Homo sapiens: one gene and its partners. The protein of the gene in region 5 purifies or fractionates together with the protein of the main gene of each other region. This does not show direct contact. Each region holds a gene or a part of one and is shown on either strand. Other genes may lie near its edges.

Evidence for each region.
Region 1: the proteins of KLF16 (region 5) and AKAP8 purify together in Homo sapiens (affinity purification with mass spectrometry; one large-scale study listed by BioGRID and IntAct). This does not show direct contact.
Region 2: the proteins of KLF16 (region 5) and SIN3B purify together in Homo sapiens (affinity purification with western blotting, with the first as the bait; one study listed by BioGRID). This does not show direct contact.
Region 3: the proteins of KLF16 (region 5) and PHF6 purify together in Homo sapiens (affinity purification with mass spectrometry; one large-scale study listed by BioGRID and IntAct). This does not show direct contact.
Region 4: the proteins of KLF16 (region 5) and CLPX purify together in Homo sapiens (affinity purification with mass spectrometry; one large-scale study listed by BioGRID and IntAct). This does not show direct contact.
Region 6: the proteins of KLF16 (region 5) and BUD23 purify together in Homo sapiens (affinity purification with mass spectrometry; one large-scale study listed by BioGRID and IntAct). This does not show direct contact.
Region 7: the proteins of KLF16 (region 5) and AGK purify together in Homo sapiens (affinity purification with mass spectrometry; one large-scale study listed by BioGRID and IntAct). This does not show direct contact.

Annotation. Positions count from the first base shown.
Region 1 is NC_000019.10:15,362,788-15,366,287, forward strand, and holds part of AKAP8 (A-kinase anchor protein 8), read right to left. Parts: intron 1-3,500. UniProt on the Homo sapiens protein: Anchoring protein that mediates the subcellular compartmentation of cAMP-dependent protein kinase (PKA type II).
Region 2 is NC_000019.10:16,874,398-16,877,623, reverse strand, and holds part of SIN3B (paired amphipathic helix protein Sin3b), read right to left. Parts: intron 1,570-3,226; coding exon 1,396-1,569; intron 1,139-1,395; coding exon 1,046-1,138; intron 80-1,045; coding exon 1-79.
Region 3 is NC_000023.11:134,411,312-134,414,811, reverse strand, and holds part of PHF6 (PHD finger protein 6), read right to left. Parts: intron 1,325-3,500; coding exon of another isoform or gene 1,322-1,324; coding exon 1,155-1,321; intron 990-1,154; coding exon 846-989; intron 1-845.
Region 4 is NC_000015.10:65,182,543-65,186,573, forward strand, and holds the start of CLPX (ATP-dependent clpX-like chaperone, mitochondrial precursor), read right to left. Parts: upstream 2,801-4,031; 5' UTR 2,612-2,800; coding exon 2,533-2,611; intron 1-2,532. UniProt on the Homo sapiens protein: ATP-dependent chaperone that functions as an unfoldase.
Region 5 is NC_000019.10:1,853,580-1,857,079, forward strand, and holds part of KLF16 (Krueppel-like factor 16), read right to left. Parts: intron 1,182-3,500; coding exon 880-1,181; 3' UTR 1-879. UniProt on the Homo sapiens protein: Transcription factor that binds GC and GT boxes and displaces Sp1 and Sp3 from these sequences. Modulates dopaminergic transmission in the brain.
Region 6 is NC_000007.14:73,686,597-73,690,096, reverse strand, and holds part of BUD23 (18S rRNA (guanine-N(7))-methyltransferase), read right to left. Parts: intron 3,462-3,500; coding exon 3,366-3,461; intron 3,280-3,365; coding exon 3,197-3,279; intron 3,099-3,196; coding exon 3,002-3,098; intron 1-3,001.
Region 7 is NC_000007.14:141,554,410-141,557,909, reverse strand, and holds part of AGK (acylglycerol kinase, mitochondrial isoform 1 precursor), read right to left. Parts: exon of another isoform or gene 2,593-3,500; intron 2,458-2,592; 5' UTR 2,444-2,457; coding exon 2,343-2,443; intron 1-2,342. UniProt on the Homo sapiens protein: Lipid kinase that can phosphorylate both monoacylglycerol and diacylglycerol to form lysophosphatidic acid (LPA) and phosphatidic acid (PA), respectively. Does not phosphorylate sphingosine. Phosphorylates ceramide.

The DNA of each region.
Region 1 (3,500 bases), about 14 Mb from region 5:
GGAAGTGAGGAGCGTCTCCGCCTGGCCGCCCATCGTCTGGGATGTGAGGAGCCCCTCTGCCTGGCTGCCCAGTCTGGAAAGTGAGGAGCGTCTCTGCCCGGCCGCCATCCCATCTAGGAAGTGAGGAGCGCCTCTTCCCGGCCGCCATCACATCTGGGAAGTGAGGAGCGTCTCTGCCCAGCCGCCCATTGTCTGAGATGTGGGGAGCACCTCTGCCCTGCCGCCCCGTCCGGGATGTGAGGAGCGTCTCTGCCTGGCCGCCCTGTCTGAGAAGTGAGGAGACCCTCTGCCTGGCAACCGCCCCGTCTGAGAAGTGAGGAGCCCCTCCGCCCGGCAGCCGCCCCGTCTGAGAAGTAAGGAGCCCCTCCGCCCAGCAGCCACCCCGTCTGGGAAGTGAGGAGCGTCTCCGCCCGGCAGCCACCTTGTCCGGGAGGGAGGTGGGGGGATCAGCCCCCCGCCCGGCCAGCCGCCCCGTCTGGGAGGTGAGGGGCGCCTCTGCCCAGCCGCCCCTACTGGGAAGTGAGGAGACCCTCTGCCCGGCCAGCCGCTCCGTCCGGGAGGGAGGTGGGGGGGGGTCAGCCCCCCGCCCGGCCAGCCGCCCCGTCCGGGAAGTGAGGGGCGCCTCTGCCCGGCCGCCCCTACTGGGAAGTGAGGAGCCCCCCTGCCCGGCCAGCCGCCCCGTCCGGGAGGGAGGTGGGGGGGGTCAGCCCCCCGCCCGGCCAGCCGCACCGTCCGGGAGGGAGGTGGGGGGGTCAGCCCCCTCGCCCAGCCAGCCGCCCCGTCCAGGAGGTGAGGGGCGCCTCTGCCCGGCCGCCCCTACTGGGAAGTGAGGAGCCCCTCTGCCCAGCCACCACCCTGTCTGGGAGGTGTACCCAACAGCTCATTGAGAACGGGCCATGATGACAATGGCGGTTTTGTGGAATAGAAAGGCGGGAAAGGTGGGGAAAAGATTGAGAAATCGGATGGTTGCTGTGTCTGTGTAGAAAGAGGTAGACGTGGGAGACTTTTCATTTTGTTCTATACTAAGAAAAATTCTTCTGCCTTGGGATCCTGTTGATCTGTGACCTTACCCCCAACCCTGTGCTCTCTGAAACATGTGCTGTGTCCACTCAGGGTTAAATGGATTAAGGGCGGTGCAAGATGTGCTTTGTTAAACAGATGCTTGAAGGCAGCATGCCAAGAGTCGTCACCACTCCCTAATCTCAAGTACCCAGGGACACAAACACTGCCAAATCTCCCTCTGCGAGAAACACCCAAGAATGATCAATAAAAATAAATAAATAAATAAATAAATAAATAAATAAATAAATTGGCAGTGGGCAAAAAAAAAAAAAAAAAGAAACAGGATTTTCAGTAATTTTTTTTCTTTCCTTTTTTTTTTTTTTTTTTTGGAGATGGAGTTTTGCTCTTGTTGCCGAGGCTGGAGTGCAATGGTGCGATCTCAGCTAACCGCAACCTCTAACACCCAGGTTCAAGCGATTCTCCTGCCTCAGCCTCCCGAGTAGCTGGGATTACAGGGGCCCGCCACCAAGCCTGGCTAAATTTTTGTATTTTTATTTTATTTTATTTATTTATTTTTTTGAGACGGAGTCTCCCTCTGTTGCCCAGGCTGGAGTGCAGTGGTGCGATCTTGGCTCACTGCAACCTCCGCCTCCCAGGTTCAAGTGATTCTCCTGCGTCAGCCTCCCGAGTAGCTGGGATTACAGGCGCCCACCACCACTCCCAGTTAATTTTTGTATTGTGAGTAGAGACGTGGTTTCACCATGGTGGCTAGGTTGGTCTCGAACTCCTGACCTCGTGATTGACCCACCTCAGCCTCCCAAAGTGCTGGGATTAAAGGCGTGAGCCACCGCGCCCAGCCTATTTTTTTTTTGTATTTTTAGTAGAGACAGGGTTTCACCATGTTGGCTAGGCTGGTCTCGAACTCCTGACCTCAGGTGATCCACCTGCCTTAGCCTCCCCAAAGTGCTGGGATTACAGGCGTGAGCCACCGCACCCAGACTTTTCTTTTTCTCGAGATGAGATTTCACTGTATTGCTCAGGCTGTTCTCAAACTCCTGGGCTCAAGCGATCCTCCCACCTCAGCCTCCCAAGTAGCTGGGATTAGAGGTGCATGCCACCGCACTCAGCCAGGGAAAGTGGCTGCTGAACCAAGAGTTCCGACTTCCCAAAGGGCAACAGAATGGCAGTTACCCAAACTTCCCCAGCTGAAGAATGGGAACACAGGCTTGCAGGTATCTCAGGAAAATGACTCGCATAGTAATCTGCTGGCACTGCAGCCCCTCTGGCCCCAAAGCCCCTGAGAAAACACCAGAAAGCTGCAACTGCTTGGAACTGGGGACGCCCTAGGCTCTGGCTGGCAGCTCTTGGGGCCCAGCATCTAGCTTCACAGCTTCTCAGATGAGTTCCTCTCTGCAGGAACTGGGATGACATAAGGCAACCTCATTTTACGTGCAGACAAAACACCTCGCACAATTCAAAACACAAAACCCAGTATCAGTTCTGCCATGAGACTACACGTAAAGACATGTCACATCAAATTCTACAGATAAAAAGTGAGGCTTCTTTGTCACAGGCTTTCAAAGTCTCCCCAAATGCAACCACGCTGCATGGCAAGGGAGAGCAGCCTGCAGGCCCCCAGGCCACCACACTGGGGTGCTCCCTCCCTGGCTCTCTCCTGGAGGCTCCTGCCCCTTCTGGTGTAGGGGTGCAGGCCCTGTGGCACTCAGGACTTCACCTCTGCCAACTCCACATGCCTGGCTTCTGACCTCTGACAAGCAACATGAAGACACCTCCGCTTCTGCAGACAGCCCCTACGTAGGCGGGGAGGGGACAATCTCCCGGGGCTCATACACAGCACTGTCAGGAAGCTACTGATGAGCTGTGTGCTTCCCTGCTACACCTCTGCCTCCCCGTGAGAATTCCTCCAAGTCCCTTCGAGATCCTCAGTCATGGCCAGGCGCGGTGGTTCATGCCTGTACTCCCAGCACTTTGGGAGACCAAGGTGCGTGGATCACCTGAGGTCAGGAGTTTGAGACCAGTCTGGCCAACATGGTGAAACCCCGTCACTACTAAAAGTACAAAAATTAGCTGGGTGTGGTGGCGGGCGCCTGTAATTCCAGCTACTTGGGAGGCGGAGGTAGGAGGATCACTTGAGCCCAGGAGGTGGACTGTTGCAGTGAGCTGAGATCGTGCCACTGCACTCTAGGATGGGTGACACAGCAAGACTCCATCTCAAAGGATAAAAAAAAAAAAAAAGAAAAAGATCCTCAGTCACTAGCGCACACTCTGAAGGTTTCTTTTTTTTTTTTTAAAAAAAGTCACCTGTTCATTGGAAGAACATACAAGATGAAAAAAAAGCAAAAAGAAAAAAAAAAAAAGCAAAAAGTAGTAAAAAAAAAATGTCATCTCTATACCCTTCTCCCAGTACTCTGGGAGGCCAACGCAGGAAGATCTCTTGAGGCTAGTTCAACAGCCCAAGCAACAGAGAAAGACCCCTA
Region 2 (3,226 bases), about 15 Mb from region 5:
GTTTCAGGAGGAAGCCCTCAGTGGGCGAGCTGGACGCGCCCTCGGTCCCCACATACTGCTCCACGTACCGAGCCAGGTGCTGGGGACAGGGAGAGACACAGCCCGTGATGCCCCTACAGCAGGGCTATGGCCACTCTTACTCTGGACTCTGAGTTCAGGAGCTCACAGGGGTTCTGTGCCCCCCACTGCCAGAGCATGAGGAGAGCCGCTGCAGAGGACTCTGATCCCTGACGGAGACCCCAACAGACTATAGCTCTTGACAGAGGACCCAGTGACAGCGGGACTCACACAACCAGGCCACAGCTGAGGAGCGCCAGAAGCCCCCGGAAGCTGGAAGAGCAGGAAGGATCCGCCCCAGAGCCTTTGGCAGGAGCACCGCCCGGCCCACACTGTGGTTGTGGACTGCTGACCTCCAGGACGTTGAGGGAATAGACTTCTGTTGTTTGAAGCCACGTGGTTTGTGGTCATTGTGGTGGTAGCCCCAGGAAATGAATGGGGTTGGCCTAGCTGAGTAATGTGCACACACACTGGACCTGTTGGCAGGTGCCGGGAGCTGCAGGCCCCAATGACCACCCTGGGGACACACACGGGTCAATGCCTCACTGTCACCAGGATGCGGGAGGTGAGCAGGAAACATCTGTCCCCGCAAAAATTGTGACTGGGAGCTGGGCCCAGGTGGCTCCTCTGCTGGGGATTAGGAACAGGATGCAGCCCTGACACAAGAGGTGCAGAGGTCACAGCCACGGGATGCCCTGAGTGGGAGTCGGGGGCCAGGGAGAGGTGGCTTGGTTCCCCTCCTGCCCTGGGACACAACCGCTTGCTCAGGAGGAGTGGTCTGCTCTTTGGAGAGGGGGCACAGAAGAGAGCCTGGTGGGGGAGCAGGGAGGGAGGCAACCCCACCCACCAGGCCTCAAGGAGAGCCTGTGGCCTGCAGAGGGAGGGTCTCTGGATGCTGCGCGGCCTGCGCTTGGCTGGTGGGAGCCCCATGCTGCTGCCCTCAGGCGCTCCCTGGTATGCGTGGCACAGACTGGGGCCAGGGCCTCACCTGGACCTCCACAGGGTCCTCCGTCTGGGCCTCCTCGGTGTCCAGGAGCTCGATGGTCATGATCACCTGCCCTTTGCGCTGCAGGAACATCACCTGCGGAGCAGGAACGCTGACAGCCTCCACTGCCGGCACAGCCCAGCCGGCACAGCGCAGGCTCGCAAGGCCACCCGCCTCCCGCCTTTGCCACCCTCCCAAAGCCCTGATGCTTCCTGCAGGTCAAAGGTACCTCATGGGCTCTGCAGCAGGGCCGGTGTCCCAGCCGCTGAACCAGGGTCCACCCAGGACTGAGTCCAGAGCGGAGTGAGCGGCCGGGCCTCCCGGCGTGTTCCCAGCCCCAGGCCTCCTCTCACCTTGAAGCAGTTCTCGTCGGCCATGCAGCGCTCAGCCTTCCACTGGTAGCTGGTCTCCCTAGCAGCGCGGACGCAGCGGGAGGACAGGTTCCCACCAGCGGCACCCCGCTTCTTCTCGTTCAGGTAGAGCTCCACCACCTTCAGGCAGACGTCATCGCTCACGAGGTGGTGCAGCTGGCGGGAGGAAAGCAGGTGGTGCGGCCACCCCGCCTCCTGCGGGAGTCCCCACCTCACCCACAGAGGAAGTCGACAAAGGCCAGAAACACATCAGGATGGAGAGTGCATGACACAGGGATGAAGAGACCAGAATCCTGACAGGCTGTGGGCAGACCAGACCAAACAGACCAGACCAGACCAGACCAGACCAGACCAAACAGACCAGACCAGACCAGACCAAACCAAACAGACCAGACCAGACCAAACAGACCAGACCAGACCAGACCAGACCAGACCAAACAGACCAGACCAAACAGACCAGACCAGACCAAACCGACCAGACCAGACCAAACCAGACCAGACCAGACCGAACCGACCAGACCAGACCAGACCAGACCAGACCAAACAGACCAGACCAGACCAGACCAAACAGACCAGACCAGACCAGACCCAAACCAGACCAAAACCAGACCAGACCAAACCAAAACCAAACCAGACCAGACCAGACCAGACCAGACCAAACAGACCAGACCAAACAGACCAGACCAGACCAAACAGACCAGACCAGACCAAACCAGACCAGACCCAAACCAGACCAAAACCAGACCAGACCAGACCCAAACCAGACCAAAACCAGACCAGACCAAACAGACCAGACCAGACCAAACCAGACCAGACCAAACAGACCAGACCAGACCAAACCAGACCAGACCAAACAGACCAGACCAGACCAAACCAGACCAGACCCAAACCAGACCAGACCCAAACCAGACCAAAACCAGACCAGACCAGACCCAAACCAGACCAAAACCAGACCAGACCAGACCAAACAGACCAGACCAGACCAGACCAAACCAGACCAGACAGACCAGACCAGACCAGACCAGACCAAACAGACCAGACCAGACCAGACCCAAACCAGACCAAAACCAGACCAGACCAAACCAAAACCAAACCAGACCAGACCAGATCAGACCAAACTAAACCAGACCAGACCAAACCAAAACCAAACCAAACCAGACCAAAACCAGACCAGACCAGACCAAACCAGACCAAACCAAAACCTAACCAAACCAAACCAAACCAGACCAAATCAAATCAGACCAGACCAAAACCAGACCAGATCAGATCAGACCAAACCAAAACCAACCAAACTAGACCAGATTAGACCAGACCAAAACCAGACCAGACCAGACTAGACCAGACTAAAACCAAACCAAACCAGACCAAATCAAATCAGACCAGACCAAAACCAGACCAGATCAGATCAGACCAAACCACACCAAACCAGACCAAACCAAAACCAACCAAACTAGACCAGATTAGACCATACCAAAACCAGACCAGACCAGACTAAAACCAAACCAAACCAGACCAAACAGACCAGATCAGACCAAACCAAAACCAAACCAAACCAGGCCAGATCAGATCAGACCAGACCAGACCAAAACCAGACCAGACCAGACCAAACCAAAACCACACCAAACCAGACCAGACCAAATCAGACCAAATCAAAACCAAACCAAACCAGACCAGACCAGACCAGATCAGAGCAGACCAAATCAGACCAAATCAAAACCAAACCACACCAGACCAGATGAGACCAGACCAAAACCAGACCAGACCAAATCAGACCAAACCAAAACCAAACCAAATCAGACCAAAGCCAGACCAG
Region 3 (3,500 bases), on a different chromosome or scaffold from region 5:
GCCAGTGTGGAGCCAAGATTAAATAGCCTGCTTTAAGCAATGAAAATTTCAACAATGTCACTCTATTCTCAACTATTTTACATTTCCACAAAGTTTTAAAAAATAGTTTAAATTGGCAAATTTCAACCATAGATGCAGATTAGAATCACTCGCGTATTTTTTTTTTTCAAACTAGACATATACGAGATCTATTCCACAGGGTGCCTAGATGCACATATTTCGGAAAAAGCTCACCAGGTAAATCTGACATGCACTCTGGTTAAGAATCTCTGACATAAATAATGTAATTTTAAAAACCTTATCAATGGGATGAGTCATTCAATACAATCTAAGTCAAAGATATTTATGTGTACTGTAAGTCAGGCATGGACCTAAGGATGTCAAGATAAAAACTTATTCTTATCTTCAAGGAATTTAAGAGTCTGTTAGGGAAGATAAGTTCATAAATGAATAATTGTAATATAGAGTGTTAAGTACAACAGAGATAATTATTAGGTTATAGTGAAAGTCTAAAATATATTTCATGACATGCTTATAAAGACAAAATTTTTATAGTTATGAAATAATTAATTACAGATTATCCTAACTACAGTAACTATAATTAGAATTACTTCAAATCCTACTAAAACATAAAGGCTATAATTTAACAAAATCTAAACTTAAGATTTGGGATTATAAGATATACTGTTTATAACTCTAAAATACTAATGCTGGTGGGGGGAAATTTTTTGGTTACTAGCTAAATGATTTTTAAAAAAAAAATCATTTGGGCTTTAGATCACAGGGGAAACAAAGAAAAACAAACAACAAAAAAACAAAATTGGGCTTAAAAGAACCATGCTTACCATGCACTTATAATGGGCAGCTGCCTTCTTGGCATTAAATATATGCAGTTTTCCTCGTGCTTCATTTTCTTCCTCCCCTACATGGCAAAATCCACATTTAGGCCTGGTGTCACTAGGGCTGCTTCTGTGTGGAGACCTATCTCTCTGCAAATGTAAAAGAAAAAACGAACTTAAAAAAAATCATGAAAATATGCTATCGGTATTTCAAGCTTACTTAACATTTCAAATGATGAACTTTACCTATAGATAGTTTAAATGAAATATTCATGGTGCAACAAAAGTAAGAATCCAACAGTTTTTTTTACTTACATAGGAACTACTTTCCATTTCATCTGTTCCATGGGAGGATGTGGACCTGGTATCTTCTGACAGCCCTTTAAAATTAGTTTTTCTTGGCCTTCCTTTGCGACTTTTCTTTTTACTTTTAGGTGATGAGGGCTCCAGTTCATGTTCATTAAAACTTTCTTCTAAATCAGCTGCTTAAAAATGAACAAAAACTTTTTATGGACCAATCTCAAAATAAGTATTAGTTCATGGGTCTTTAGGACATATGTTTCTCCTTAGAATGAAACTGTCTCCAGAAATGAGGAGAAATGGTCTGTGGTATGTTCAATAAAGCCACCCAATGTTTCAGATAAATGCAATAAAAATCAAATACAAATAGTTTAGTAAATTAATTTTTAGAGTTTGCTTTTGCATTATTATTTTTTTTTACCATAGGTTTCAAAGAGTTTGTAAAATTAGAACACTTACCTAGAAAATACACTTACTGTAACTTGGAAAACTAAATGAAAATAAAGTAGATATATCTGTGCTATTCAATGTAGTAGCCACTAGCAACATGTGGCCTTAAAAAATTTAAGTCAGTTATAATTAAATAAAATTAAAACTTCAGTTTCTTAGTCACACTGACCGCACTGCAAGAGCTTATTGGCTACATGTGGCTAGTTGCAACTGTATTAGACAGCACATATACAGGACTGTTGCCACTGTCACAGGAAAGTTCTACTGGATAACACTGGTCTAGATTACTCTTCAAACGATCATGAAAACTGAATGAACAAATTCAACAAGGAAGTCATTTACAATTGAACTAATGGATCAAGTAATTAAACAAATATTAAGTACAAAAAGAATTTCTAATACAAGCAGTAAAAAAAGTATGTTGCAAGTTAGTTGCATATGCTTTAATGAATTAAGCAAAACTTACGCAGAAATTTGAGAACTGCATTTCTCAGTAATCTGAAAAGAATTTCTACCATAATGAAAGGTGTTTCATCAGTAGTTTACTATAAATATTTTATTTATTGAAGGCCTCTGTATAAGATAATGTATTAATATTTAGTGTTTAAAAGGGTAATAAAAACCAAATGTTCACTTGCCATAGGCTCAAACTATGGAAAGTTTTAGGCACAGCTCTAATATTTTCGCCATTTTTTCCTTTACCATGTTATTGATTATAATTCTAGAGACTAATTTCTCAATGAGAAAGCATATCAACTCCTATGCTCAGACGTTAATATCTTTCCTACTACTTTGAAGGTTGTTTATTAGAAATGAAAGCACATTTATTATAAGAAAAGGGCAATTCAGTTGGTATACTTGAATATATATATAAATTAAGGGAACTACAAGTATTAGGTTGTTTGCAAAACAGTTAATAACAATTTACATGAGTGCAACTTCACATAGCTCTGGTGGGACTTGAGGGAGTTAAGGGGAAAAGGTAAAAGTTATTGCATAGTGTTTTATAGGCAACAAAATAAATTCACGTGAATAACTTCCTGTGAAGACACAGAAGTCAATTAAAGATGTTTTCTCTCCTTAACACGATAGCAAACTTCATGTCAGAATACACTACTTAATTTAAATATTCAAACTGACAATTTTTAAGACATGGAATTTCACTAAAAGCTGTTAGAATTACTTGCACTTGGCTGGGCGTGGTGGCTCACGCCTGTAATCCCAGCACTTTGGGAGGCCGAGGTGAACAGATCACGAGGTCAGGAGTTCGAGACCAGTCTGGCCAATATGGTGAAACCCCGTCTCTACTAAAAATACAAAAAATTAGCCGGGTGTGGTGGCGCACACCTGTAGTCCCAGCTAATCGGGAGGCTGAGGCAGAAGAATTGCTTGAACCCGGGAGGCGGAGGTTGCAGAGAGCCGAGATTGTGCCACTGCACTCCAGCCTGGGTGACAGAGCAAGATTCCATCTCAAAAAAGAATTACTTGCACTTGCCAAATATTAAAAATTCTCAAAATGAAAAATCATAACTGTTTCAATCATTCTAAGACATCTATGTGTATGTATATATAAAACATTGTTTTATACATATGTATACACATAATATATTCAGTTATCTATTATGAAAATAAGCATCACTAACACCATACATAACACTATTAAATAACATTTAATAGTTGTTTAATAAATAACAATAAACAAATAAGATGTTTAATAAATAACATTATTAAACATCTATAACATTTAATAATGTTATTTATTAAACATCTATAAAAATTACTTAAGAACTGATTCCATTATCAAGCCAACATGATTAGTTTCCCACATGTCATATTTGTTCTAAATATGAAATCATTCCACAAAAATTTTTAACAACTTTAACATCAATAGTAAAAGTCACGAAAGATTCA
Region 4 (4,031 bases), on a different chromosome or scaffold from region 5:
TCTGATTTTGATTGATGACAAATCCACAGACACTTCTAAGACTACTGTGGATGTGTTGCCCACATTCATAGGCCAAGGAAACGTTGTGTTTCAGTTAGAGCTTAGTGAAAATAAAGTTCACAGAATCTCTGAATTCTATTCAAGGACCCTTTGGAGGCCTGTAAACCCCAGGTGAAGCTCTGAAAGCCAAAAAAGAGAAGTGTTTCTGTAAAGTATATTTCACCAGATTACCTGGCAGCAACCAGAAAAGACAATTTAAGTTTCACTATTTACAGAACTTTATCATACAGACAAAGCTTTCTAAATTTCAGAACAACTGTTTTTAAAAAGAAATACTAGTCCGGGTGCGGTGGCTCAAGCCTGTAATCCTAGCACTTTGGGAGGCCAAGGCGGGTGATCTCCTGGGGTCCAGGAGTTGGAGTCCAGCCTGACGAACATGGCAAAATCCCGTCTCTACTAAAAATATAAAAATTAGTGGGGCGTGGTGGCGCGCGCCTGTAACCCCAGCTTACTCAGGAGGCTGAGGCAGAAGAATTGCTTGAACCCAGGAGACGGAGGTTGCAGTGAGCCGAGATCGCGCTACTGCACTCCAGCCCGGGCAACTTAGCAGATTCCATCAAGACAGACACACAAAAAGAGGCCAGGCGCGGTGGCTCACGCCTGTAATCCCAGCACTTTGGGAGGCCGAGGCGGACGGATCACAAGATCAGGAGATCGAGACCATCCTGGCTAACACGGTGAAACCCCGTCTCTACTAAAAATACAAAAATTAGCCAGGCGTGGTGGCGGGCGCCTGCAGTCCCAGCTACTCGGGAGGCTGAGGCAGGAGAATGGCGTGAACCCAGGAGGCGGAGTTTGCAGTAAACTGAGATCTGGCCACTGCACTCCAGCCTGAGCGACAGAGCGAGACTCTGTCTCAAAAAAAAAAAAAAAAAAAAAAGAAAGAAAATAAGACAGACAGAAAGACAGATAGTAGATGGAAAGAAAGACAGAAAGGAAAGAAAGACAGGAAGGAAGGAAAGGAAGGAAGGAAGGAAGGAGAAAAGAAAAGAAAAAGAAAGAAAACAGTCGTTTTGAAAAGAAAAAAAAATAACTGCCTATCTCCTATGATTCAAAAATGTTCACGGACTCTTGGCTACAAGAGATCAGTAACACTTTCAAAGAAGCCGTCCCTGACCAAAGGGAACACACACATACTTCATCCACCCACTGGAAACTGTATTATTCTTTGTCTACTCCACTAGATTTAAACATGAGGGTGAGGACTTATTCACCACTCTACCTCCAGCACTAAAAGAAGGCCTGACACACAGTGGACCCTTGACAAATATTAATATATATCAGATAAATGGATTAAAATATGTCACTTTAAAGTGTTTGCAAATCGAATTCCTGGAATCGGGACATCTACTGGTTGAGGCTTAACATCGATTTAGGATTAAATTTACTCCCTTACATTTATATATCATTTTACAAAATGCTTCTGCCCACGTTACCTCATTCAATCCTTCCTTCTGTAGTAAAGAAACTGGAAGATATATTTAGTAAACAATAAGGATTTTATAATTGGCTTAGAAGTTAGATAAAAGGGGCCTTTTTAAAAATCCATCCAAGGGTCATAAACCGATAAGCCAAAATAAAACGAATTTGTCTAGAAGTCAGTCATTATAACAGGATCTAGCCTCGTGGTCTGACTTCCACAGATTTGAGGAAGAGAAAAAAAGTTTATTTTCCAGACTCTCTTGGCTGGGGCGCCATTCTTTCACAGCTTCAGATAAACAGAAAGAAAAGGTAAACAACATGCGCCACTCTTAGGAAACTACCTCCCGGTCAAGTTGGGAAAGCCAGCAAAGGACTGCTGAAACACCCAAGTACTTCCGAACCAACTCCTGCGGGACTTCTCCCCATCTCTCCCGCCGCTGTCCTGCGGGCCCCGGGGCTTGCCTGACGCCGGGAAGTATTGTGAACCTTGTTTATGTCCCAGTGTCAGGGCCGCACAGTGATAGTAACATCTCGGGTATCGCGCGGCTTGCGTCCGGGACGGCCAGCTGGGTGCCCCGAGTCCTGGGGGACCCTAGTAGGGACAGATCCTCAGCCGAGCCCCTCCTGGAGCCCCCAACGGGCCCGAGGGGGATCCCGGCCAGGCTGCGGAAGAAGAGCCGCAGCCATGGCAGGCGGCGGTCCCCGGCAGGGCTGAGTGGGATCTGGAGACATTTTTTAATAACAGGAGCATTTTGTGCCTTTCAGGGTTTCTACAAAGTGGCCGCATTCCGGCCCCAAAGTCAGCAGGCCTGAAAGCGTGCAGGCAGGCGCGTGGGAAGGAGTTTACTTCCAATTTGAGCAACGGCTGCTCCAGAGGTTGGCAGAGCCCCATTCCACGGGGAAAGTGGTGGGTGCCGGGCGAAGCGCCGCGCATTCCCTCACACTCCCCGGGTGCAGCAGGCCTCGTGCCCTCCCCGGGGCCCCCAACCATTGGCCAGTCCACCCCCCCCCCGACAGGCTGAGGGCTCAGGAGTGGCACTATTTCGTTACCTCTCTGCGCGGAGGCGAGTGAGGAGGTGATGAGCCGGACGGCCGCCGCGCCGCAAGTACAAGCACCGCAGCTGGGCATCTCCGCGAGGCCTAGGCCGGGGCTTCGCCCCCTGAGGACCTCCGGGTCACAGCGGCGTGAATCCTGCCCGCAAGGCGCGCTGACTCGGTTCCGAACCCTTTCGCGGGCCCTAGACCCCGTGGAGAGTTCACCTGCCCGGCAGCCAGGCCTTCACGCTTCTCTGCCCCACAGCCGTCTATTCACCAGAGTAGACACCCAACCCCCCCCTCCCTTCCCCTCCTTCTCCTTCTACCCCCACCCCCAGCCTACTGGGCCCGGGGAGCTTGCGCGCGCCTGCGCCCTAGGCCCGGGGAGGGGGCGGAGGGCGTGGGCACGCGCCGTGTTTGCGAGCTGGTGAAGCTACGTGAGGCGAAGGCGAGGGGGTGGTGCCCTGGGCGCCAATGAGTTCCCTACGGCAAGCGTCTAGCCCCAACTGGGGCGACTACAGGTCCCGACGCTCAAGGTTGCCAAAAGCCCTTTTATCCTAAAGTTGAAAGGTTTTGCGATAGACGCGGAGAGATGCATGCCGGGACTTGTAGTCCCGAGTCGTCATAGTCGAGCTCTTCCGGTCACTTTTAGTGGGCGGCAGGGAAGGTCAAGGTGAGGCTGGTGGCTTAACCCTCCAGGGGGAAGTCTCTAAAGTGCCTTGGTAGGCGCTGGATGCTTCAGATTCACTAAATTTCTTCCCCCGGAATTCCACATCCTGTGTTCCTTATCTTCTCATTCTCCTTAGTTTCATCACTTGTAACATGGAGTTGGTATTGTCAGTTAGTTCCCTGAGCAGCAATTGTTAGTTGGTAACAGCTCCGTCTCCTTGTTCTTTCAGGCCTCGTGGTGATAAAGCTTCTAGCTGTTGCTAGTCCGTGGGTGCTTTAAAGTCTTGAGGGTTTTCTTTTCTTTCTTTCTTTTTTTTAATTTAGTAAAGATGAGGTCTCCCTATGTTGCCCAGGCTGGTCTCAAACTCCTGGGCTCAAGTGATCCTCTCGCCTCGCCCTCCCAAAGTGCTGGGATTACAGGCGTGAGCCACCGCACCCGGCCGTGATTAAGGATGGCACTGCATAGATAACCTCTGGTCAGGTTCCTATCAGGCCATCCTCTCAAGTTATGAATTCAAAAGCACAGAGCCGGCTGGGCGTGGTGGCTCACACCTGTAATCCCAGCACTTTGGGAGGCCGAGGCAGGTGGATCACGAGGTCAGGAGTTTGCGACCAGCCTGACCCACATGGTGAAACCCCATCTCTACTAAAAATACAAAAATTAGGTAGGTGTGGTGGCGTACTCCTGTAATCCCAGCTACTCAGGAGGCTGAGGTGGGAGAATTGCTTGAACCCAGGAGGCGAAGGTTGCAGTGAGCCGATATCGTGCCATTGCACTCCAGCCTGGGCGACAGAGCGAGACTCCGTCTCAAAAAAAAAAAAAAAAAACCCAGAGCCATCTGAGA
Region 5 (3,500 bases):
CGGCCAAAGTCAGCAAGGCAGGGACTGGAGGCCCAAGCCCGGTGCCAGCCTCCCCTGCAGCCTCTCTCACCCACCCACCCAGAGAGGGCGAGCTAGGGCCCCCACACCCGAGGACAGAGGAAAATAAATAAGCCAGGATTCCCTCCCGACCCCACTGAGTCAAATGTTCTTTGGAAGAACCCAGAGGTCCCCTCCCTCCCCATCCCAGGTCTCAGAAGCAACACCTGGAGCCCCTCCGGGCATCCTAACGCTGCCCCACTCCTGGCTCTACCCCCGAGGTCTGGGGGGCCAGGCAGCCCCTACCGTGGGCAGAACTTGTGGACACCTGAGATTGAGTACCCGAATGGGGGGTGGCTGGGCTGCACCCCCATTTCCCTGAACTACTCCCATGGCTTTCGGTGGGGTGGGGGTGGGGTGGGGAGAGGCAGGGGCCGTGTCAACCCCCGACTCCTCTATGGCTGTCTGAACACTTCATCCCAATCTGCAGGGATGGGGCAGGGGGTGCTTTCCCCGGGCCGGCTCCCAGAAGTCCACTCCACCCCCCCAAACCCCACCCCGGGAGGGGGGCAGCAGGGGGTGGTGGAGAGGAGAGGGGAGGACCTCCTAGCTGCCCTGGGGGGGCCCCGTTGCACAGATGGGAAGAAAGTTAGTATCATGGCTATTTACAGACACAAGCCCCCGTCACCCATCCTGAGAGCCACCTCTGAGGTCAGGCAGACCCAGGTCCAGTCTCAGGCCCCCTCCTCACTCTCTGGAGGGGGGCAGGGGTGTCTTCAGGGTTTGCCCACGGCTGGAAGGGGCCCAGGCTCCCCGTGGGTCCTCACTACACCCCTGGATGGCAGAAGCATCCTGGCGGTCAGGGTGGGCTGCACGAGGGCCCTACAGGCCTGCGGGGGCTGGGCTGGGCGCGGGGCTGGGCGCAGGGCTCCCGGCCAGGCTGCAGGGCAGCGAGTCGCTGGGGGAGGTACTGCGGGCACCAGGGCGCCGGAGCAGGTCCGGGTGGAAGCCGGGGTGGCGGCGGGCGTGCTTGGCCAGGTGGTCACTGCGGGTGAAGCGCTTGGAGCACAGAGGGCAGGAGAAGCGCTTCTCGCCCGTGTGCGTCCGGTGGTGGCGGGCCAGCTCGTCGGAGCGGGCGAACTTCTTGTCGCAGCCCTGCCAGTCACAAGCAAAAGGGCGTTCCCCTGGACGGAGAGACAGAGACAGACAGCGGGTCAGCGGGGGCGGGGGGAGATGACAGACACGTTCCAGCAGATCCCAAAGGGTGGCGGGCATTTGTCCCGTGCCGTTTTAGAGGCTGAGCTCTGGTGTGAGTTCAAAACATGGAGAAGCACAAAGAATACAACCCTTACCCGCCCCCCGGTGGCCCAACACGAGACCCTAATAAATAATCCTCTTATTTCCTACCAGCTCTTAGAAAGGACTCTCCGGCGAGCCCAGAATCTGTTAACCGTAAGTAACCGCCGCAGACCCCCAAGGCTGAAGCTCCCCAGGCCCTCGCAGCCTCTGGCCCCAGGCGGGACCCTGGCAGGGATTAGCAAAGGCCTCCCAGTGTCTGTCCCAGGCACAGGCACGCTCAGAAGGCATGCTCGGCCTTCAGGCTGTCCCTGCCCCCCACCCAGGGGCATGCAGGGGCCTCCATCTGTGCATGATCCCCTCCTTTTCCAAATGACCACCTGGGATGCAAAGGCTGGGTTAAGGGGGTACAATCATGGCAACCTCCCTAACCCTCCTGGCCCCTCCACGAGCAAGGGGGCATGGGAGGAACCCGCAGGCACAGTCAGTCTGGGCCCCGATCTCGGGGTGTGGTTAGATGGAAGACAGGCAGGAAAGCTCACAGGGAGGGGAGGGGGCGGGGTCTCCCGGGAAGGGGCGGGGCCCGGCGGGCTGGACTCGCCCCACCCCCACGGGACAGATGGCGCTGGGCAGGGGCGGGCCACCACCCGGCCACTTCCTCCACAGTCCCCTCCCACCGCCAAGGCCGGGCCTCGCCCATCCTGCCCCTAACCAGCCGTCACCATCTGGGCCTGCCTGTGCGCCTCCAGGCGGTGTGGGTCTTTGCTCTAGAACTGTGCCACCCGACCCCTTCCTTTAGCCGGGGTCTCACGCCCACAGCATGTGGCATCGTGATGTCAGCGTCTCCCCAGCAGATAGGGGTCTCCAACGACTGGGGAGGGGCAGGTCAGTCCACCTCCACCCAGGGACCGAAGCAGGACAAAGGGCCCTGCATCCCCGAAGCTCCCACCCTTTCGGGCCCTGCACCAGGTACCCTGGACCCTGGCATTCCGGGACGTTATTCCCGTGACACCCCAGGGTGGGTTGTGTGGATGGAGACCGGATGTGCATGCCCCTCGTGGCACTGGTTGGAGCCCTGAGTAGCAAAAGAGACGTCAGAACCAACTCCCCTGAGTGGCCCCAAAGCCTATTCTCAAGGAAGCCACAGCAGGGCCAGGAGGGTAGTCACCCGGTGGGTTACAAACTGGGCAGCCCACGCCCAGCACTGGAGGTTGCTCTGGCCCTGGGAGCACTCCCACCGGTCCATGAAGAACTGCAGCCAGCCAGGGGCCTAGAAGGACCCACAGCAGGGACCATGGTGAGGGGTACAGAGACGGCGGGAGGGGCACGGCCATGCTCAGGGTGACCGAGTGACATCTCTGCTCTAAGATCAGGGGCTGCCCTGGGGAGCCCAGCTGAGGAGGGGCACGGGAGGGTGGAGGGGTCTGCCCACTGAGGGGCACCAGCGATCACCCGTGACCCAAGAAGAGCTGGAAGAAAAAACCTTCCCTTCTCATCTCATCCTTCCTCCCTGCCACACCCCGACACCCTCAGCAAAACAAGACTGCAGACAGAGACCAGCAGCCCCCCTCCCCAAGAGGTTGTGAATCCAGGCAGCTGGAGAGGGGGAGAGACCAGCTGTCACCAAGACCAACAGTAGCCTCAAATCCCTGGGGCTGCCTGCTCCACACCCCAAGTCTCCCCCAAGCAACCCAGGATGCAGCTGGGGTCGCGGGTCCGCCCCAGCTGGGGGCCGTCTACAACCCAAGCAAGAGGCGCAGAGCAGCCCTGGAAGGGACCCCACTCCCATCTCAACCACTGGGCCCTGACAGCTCCCAAGGGCCTCAGTCTGGGGACGGGGTCTGGCTGTGGGAGCGCGGCTGGAGCAGACCACGGGATTGGGGCTCGCGCCCCTCCAGGGAACATGCCGCCGTGTCGCCATCTTGCAAGGCACAGGCGGGGAGGCGGCAGGAGGGAAGGGGGAACATCCCACGGCTGGGTGCCGGACAGTCAGTTGGTTCACTTCCCCTTTCAGGGCGGCGGGGCTGGTCTCCACTCCCTCTCCCCCAGTTCCACTTTGCAAGGAGGAGCAGGTTGCCGGGGTGGGGGGGGCGACCGGGGCAGGGGCGCGCAGCCGCTGGGAACACAGCTGCCGCACGTAGCTCGGCGGCGGCGGCGGGGACATCCGCAGCCCCAGCCGGCCCCGCTCACGTGGTCCCACTCCCGCC
Region 6 (3,500 bases), on a different chromosome or scaffold from region 5:
GGAGGCAGAGGTTGCAGTAAGCCTTGTGCCACTGTACTCCAGCCTGGACAACAGAGCAAGACTCCATCTCAAAAAATAAATAAATAAAACCTCAACCAGTCACTATGTCTTCCTTCCTGCCCTTCCCCTCCGCCCTGCTGTACACACACAGAGCCCTACCTCCACCCCACTGGCTTGTCCCACAGCCTCTCCCAACTTTCACTTCCCCGCACCAATGCTCAGTGCTACCAGCTCAAATGCTTCCACCTAACTCTCTCTCCTCTTTCACCAGAAAATCACCTTCCTTAAACACACATCTGATCCCGTCACCTGCCAACTCCCCATCATCTACTCCATCAAGCCCAAACTTCTTAGGACACACTTAAGTGCCTTCTAGGAAGCAACCACACTCAACCCCATCTTCCGTGGAATCTCTCGTTCATCCCTCTCATCTCAGACCCCTTTCCCACCGGCATCTGTGCCTCTGCCCACTGTTCCCTCACTCAGAAACCCTCTCCTTGACTATCCAAATTCCTCCCAGCCTTCAAGGTGCAGCCCCTCCACCCAAGGCTTTCCTGTGCTCTGGCAGCCCCATGACTCCCTAGGGCACACACCACTCATGCCCTTATATTCAGTTGCCTGGTCCATGTCCTAAAGCACCTAATAAACCGTGGAGAGTCTTACACGCAGAAACTGTTTCATTTCCCTGTACTCCACAGCACCTTGTACGCCTTACATGTAGCAAATGTTTAAAAAAAAAAAAAAAGTCTGGGCCGGGTGCGGTGGCTCACGCCTGTAATCCCAACACTTTGGAAGGTTGAGGCGGGCAGTTCATGAAGTCAGGAGTTCAAGACCAGCCTGGCCAACATGGTGAAACCCCATCTCTACTAAAATACAAAAATTAGCCAAGCATGGTGGTGAGCACCTGTAATCCCAGCTACTCAGGAGGCTAAGGCAGGAGAATCGCTTGAACCCAGGAGGCAGAGGTTGCAGTGAGCCGAGATCGTGCCACTGCACTCCAGTCTGGACAATACAGTAAGAATCCGTCTCCAAAAAAACAGTTTGCTATACCATCTCACCTCTCCCCGAAGACAAACAAAAACTGACCATCCCCTTCCGAAACATACAGACCATACTGCTGGCCTTCGGTTTTTCACAGCTTAAAACACCTCATCTGACCATTACCAAAAAGCATCTGCTACCCTTGAAATTATTCCCCAACCCCCCTGGGTCTTGTTCCCAGATGTAAAAGGAAAATCTTCTAATCTGAATTTTTACCTCTCACCTGGCTCCCCACTTCACATCCCCACCACTCAACTTAGGGTAACCAAAGGAAGTCTCCCCTGCAAGTAATGATTTGTAACTTCCTCCCCTATTTTCTCACTTTCACTCCCACACCACACCAAAAACTAAACAGAACTGATCACAGCAGCCTAAGAAAAACTTAATCAATTTTAACATTCTAAGATCTGTTATTGAAGTGCTATGTGGATGTTTAACCCGACTCTGATTACAGAGAAAGGACTGTGAAGCACTTAAGAGATTAGAGCAAGTCCAGACGCTCTCTACCAGTTATCTGTTGGCAAATAAAGTAAGATGGCTGCTGGGGCCCACAAGATGGCTGGGGCCCATAAAATGGCCGCTAGAGACTAAAAGACCACCTCCTCTGCCCCACCAGACACACAAAGCTGACACAGAATCTGTACCAGTGGTGCCCGAACCCGGCAATGCAAAATAATCGCAATAGTAGACAAGTTTTATTTTTGAGATGAAGTGTTGCTCTGTCACCCAGGCTGGAAGTGCAATGGCGTGGACTCGGCTCACTGCAACCTCCGCCTCTCGGGTTCAAGCAATTCTCCTACCTCAGCTTCCTGAGTAGCTAGCTGGGACTACAGGTGGCCACCACCATGTCTAGCTTTTTAGGCTGGGCGCGGTGGCTCACGCCTGTAATCCTAGCACTTTGGGAGGCTGAAGAGGGCGGATCATGAGGTCAGGAGATTGAGACCATCCTGGCTAACATGGTGAAACCCCGTCTCTACTAAAAATATAAAAAAATTAGCTGGGCGTGGTGGTGGGCGCCTGCAGTCCCAAGTACTTGGGAGGCTGAGGCAGGTGAATGGCTTGAACCCGGGAGGCGGAGCTTGCAGTGAGCCGAGATCCCGCCACTGCACTCCAGCCTGGGCAACAGAGAGAGCCTCCATCTCAAAAAAAAAAAAACAACAACCACGTCTGGCTTTTTAGTAGAGGCTGGGTTTCACCATGTTGGCCAGACTGCAAAGTTTTAGAATCCAAAAAAATACACTCTTGGGCCTTGCTCTAACCTTGTAAATCTGAAAATCCCATGGGATGTGTATTTGTAAATATCTGCATGAGTCTGCTGCACAGCCAGGTTTGGGAGGCACTGGCTTGCAGGACTAAAAGCAGGAAGAAAGAGGCCAGGGTGGCTCACACCTATAATCCCAGCATTTTGGGAGGCCCAGGTGTGTGGATCGCCTGAGCAACATAGCAAAAACCCATCTCTACAACAAATACAAAAAAAGTTAGGCTGTGCACGGTGGCTCACACCTGTAATCCCAGCACTTTGGGAGGCCGAGGAGGGTGGATCACAAGGTCAAGAGATTGAAACCATCCCGGCCAACATAGTGAAACCTCACCTCCACTAAAAATACAAAAATTAGTTGGGTGTGGTGGCGTGCTCCTGTAATCTCAGCTACTTGGGAGGCTGAGGCAGGAGAATCGCTTGAGCCTGGGAGGCGAAGGCTGCAGTGAGCCAAGATCACACCACTGCACTCCAGCCTGGTGACAGAGCAAGACTCCATCTCAAAAAAACAAAAAATTAGCTAGGTACGGTGGTGTGGGCCTGTAGTCCCAGCTACTCAGGAGACTGAGGTGGGCAGATCACCTGAACCCAGGAGGTGGAGGCTGCAGTGTGAGCCATAATCACAGACACTGCACTAGAGCCTAAGTGATAGAGTGAGACCCTGTCTCTAAATAAATAAAAGCAGGAATTAAAGACCCTCACCTGATGCAACCATCAAATGTGCCTGGCTTGAATGGGATGCCCTGGCCCATATCCCCCAGCAGCAGGTCTCCCTCTATCTCTCGGTCCACAGCCTCATCTACATTAGAGAAAAGGCAGTCAGAGAAAGAGAAATACCTGTGGCTTCTCCACACCCATCAGGGTAATCCACCCTGGTGCCAGACAGGACATACTTACCCAGCATGGCAGGGCTGATATCCAGGCCCACCCAATAGTGCCCTTCATCTGACAGATAACTTCCACTCAGCCCAGTGCCACAGCTGGAAGACATGACCAGACACTCAGGGTCAGTTTACAAAGACACTTCACCACCTTAGACAATCTGAACCAGGCCCCAGAATCTCACCCAATATCCAGCAGGTAACAGGGCTTATTCTCTGGCAGATAAAGAAGCTCCAATGCTCGCCCAGCCATCCTGGTCTGGATATCAATCATCCGTGAGCTGGTAAGGCAGAAACACAAGTGGACATGGTAAAGGAGT
Region 7 (3,500 bases), on a different chromosome or scaffold from region 5:
ACCATCGAACTGCAGATTTACAAATGGTTAAGGTGAAAATGTTTATGTCCTGTGTTTTTTCACCACAATTTTTTAAAAAGGCTAAATAGTACCAAATCATGCAAGAGAACAGTCTGAGAAAAAGAAAAGCAATAGGACAACAAGAGTTTGCATTTGGGGCAGTAACATTGAATGTCAAGGGTGAAGACAGAGCAAAATGAGGCCTCCAGGCTGCCACCACACTTCTGGCTCAAGCTGTTTCAGATCCAATTTAGAACAAGGCCTCCATTAGTCCTGAAGACTTAATGGTCCTTTTTTAAGGTCTCAAGGCTACATGGGCAAGAACTTATCATGGTTCCTCTAAAGACATCCTGAACAGAGTACACAGTTCCTCAAATCTTCACCTAGTCGTAGAAACAGCAGTAATCCTCAGTGGGTGGGAATTTTCCCCGACTGACCTAGCCATGGCCTAGATTGGATGCTCCAGCAAAGGGGCCTTGAGGACTCAAGTGTAGTTAGAAAAAGGAGAAGCCAAACATTCCATGCTCCATTTGTTAAAATATCCGCTCCACCCTTTTCTTAATTACAAATTTTAAGCTTCTTATGTCTGCTTTTTTCCTTAGATGCTGGCTAATGGAATTTGAATGCCTGGCCTTGACAACACTTAGAAAGAAAAGAAGGGGAATGTATTGCAATTTTTCCACAGCTGCAAAAAAAGCAGACATCATGTTATATCATAAAGTTATTCTCACAGTGGTGAATTGAGTGTTCACAAAATATCAATATGAATCTCTTTTCCAATGTGGAGACTTCTAATTCAAAGAGTAACTGTTCTGTTTTCTGTTCAACAAAGCAGTCATTTAAGACATCTGGATTTCAGTGTTGCTACATACTTAAAATGTAGTCCTTAATCTCCAAAAGACTGCAATTTGATTGGCTGTCTTTTGTATAATTTTTATACAAAAAAACTTCTCTGTTTATTTAAATCTTATTACCATATTAAACTAAAAGAGGAGCTCTGGCACTTTCTTCTCCCTCCATGCAGGAAGACTAATAAAATCCATGACTCCTCTGAATTCTTTATTTAAACAAAAGGTTTGAAAGTCTACTTCTCATTTAAATTAATGTAGGCTAATGGGACAGATGAGGATAGTAACAGGGGATGGAGGAACAAATTCAGTAAGTGTCCCTTGATGACAGATCAAGAGACTATAGTAAGAAATGGAAGGAATAAAATGCCAGGGAGACATGAGTTCCAGTACTTGCTTACTACTGTGAAAGGAAAAATAAATCTTGGGGCCCCAAAATCACTAAGCTAAAGAAAAACAGTCAAGCTGGGAACTGCTTGGGGCAAACATGCCTCCCATTCTTTATTTTTTTTTTTTTTTTTGAGACAGGGTCTCACTCCCTCACCCAGGCTAGAGTGCAGTGGCCCGATCTGGGATCACCACAACCTCCACCTCCCAGGCTCAAGCGATTCTCCTGCCTCAGCCTCCCGAGTAGCTGGGACTACAGGTGCACGCCACTACTGCCTAGCTAATCTTTGTATTTTTAGTAGTGATGGGTTTCACCATGTTGGCCAGGCTGGTCTCCTGACCTCAAATGATCCACCTGCCTCAGCCTCCCATAGTGCTGGAGTTACAGGCATGAGCCACTGCGCCCCACCGCCTCCCATTCTATTCAAAGTCACCCCTCTGCTCACTGACATAAATACATATCTGATTGCCTACTTTAGAGAGGCCAATCAGAAACTCAAAAGAATGCAACCATTTGTCTCTTATCTACCTATGACCTGGAAGCTCCCTTCCTACTTCCAGTTGTCTTGCCTTTGTTTCAAGTTGTCCCACCTTTCCAGACCAAAACCAATGTTCATCTTACGTATATTGATTGATGTGTCATATCTCCCTAAAATGTATAAAACCAAGCTGCGCTCAGACCACCTTGGGCACGTGTCATCAGAACTTCCTGAGGCTGTGTCGCAGGCGCACGTCCTTAACTTTGGCAAAATAAACTTACTAAATTGACTAAGACCTGTCTCAGATTTTGGGGGTTCACACTACTAACTTGGGAAAGGACTTCTCTTTCTCTAAGATGTCTTAATCTCTTCCACTATAAATATAATGAATAAAAATAGCTTCCTTTCTGATGTCTCTACTTTATTCTCTAACCACTGGATATAAGTATGCATGTAGTTCCAGCTCTGGTTACAAGAAGTCTTTGTTTTTGCTTTGAATAGCATTTATTTTTCTTTTACACCACATGTTTTATAGGGATAAGCACAGCTGAGCAAGATTTTAACCTGAGGCCCTTTGGGGCTGTTTTGCTGCAGATGCAAAGGTGGGATGGGGCTGTCAGATAGTTACCAGTGTTTTCCATAGAGCCAATGGCCTCCCCAGGTCAGCAGGCAGAGCCCAGCTGTAGTTTTCTTCCAGTGATTTCGAAGCGTTTTAAAGAACACCGTCATCTTCTAGAGATTTGCTAGGTTAGTAGAGGCGGAAAGAGAAAAAAATATAATTTATCCATGGTCTTCATGTAATGTCCCTATTACTCTGTCTTCCATTCTTTTATCCTCTCTCACTCCTTTTTTTCCCACTCACTCCTCTTCCTCCTTACCACTTCTCCTCTGGCCTCAGCTCATCTTCTCCCTTCTATTTCCATCATCTTCATCTTCTCATCCACCCACACATCCATCCACCTTTCTTTCTTCCTTCACGTATTTCCACCTAACCTATACTTCTTCCCTCTCTGATCACTATTTCTTCATTGCAATAGAAGGAAGAGGGAGGGGCAGAAAGAGAGGAAGGGAATTCCAGGCTTCCTCTGGTTTTTCTAACTCCTTACAGCCTCACTGTACCACTGTTTAAGAGTATACATTTGTCTATCCATCATAATGTAAGTGTCCCAAAAAATAATAATATGAAGGGCGAGTTCAAAATAGAAGAAAATACCAGGTCCTCAATAGGAAAAGAAACAGAAAACATGGATAGAAAACTCAATGAAGAGGCAATGTACATGGCTATCTAAAAATGTTCAACTTCCTGAATAATCAGACATGCATATTACAAAGAACTATCATTATTGACCAAAATAAATTTTTAAATGATCATATTCACTGATGACATAACAAAATGATAGACACTCATACACTCCTTTAAAGAAGGTAAATTAGGAAGACTTTACTAAAAAACAGAGTGACACTATAGAATATCTTTATTCTTCATGACATTTATTATTTGGTGATGCTTATATTCATTTGCTCATTTATTAGCCTAATCCTACTGGAATGTAAACTCCATGAGAGTAAGGACATAATTCTGGTCACTGCTGTATCCCATGCCTAAAGTAAGATCCGGCACACAATAGCTGTTTAAGAAATATTTGTTCAATGAATAAGTTAAATAGCAATTAAATATTTTTTTACCCAAAATTTTTACTGATGGGGGAAAAAACCCAAAACATAATGTTAAGTAAAATTAGCAGGATAAAAAGCCATATATAATTGGCATTATACCAATTATGTT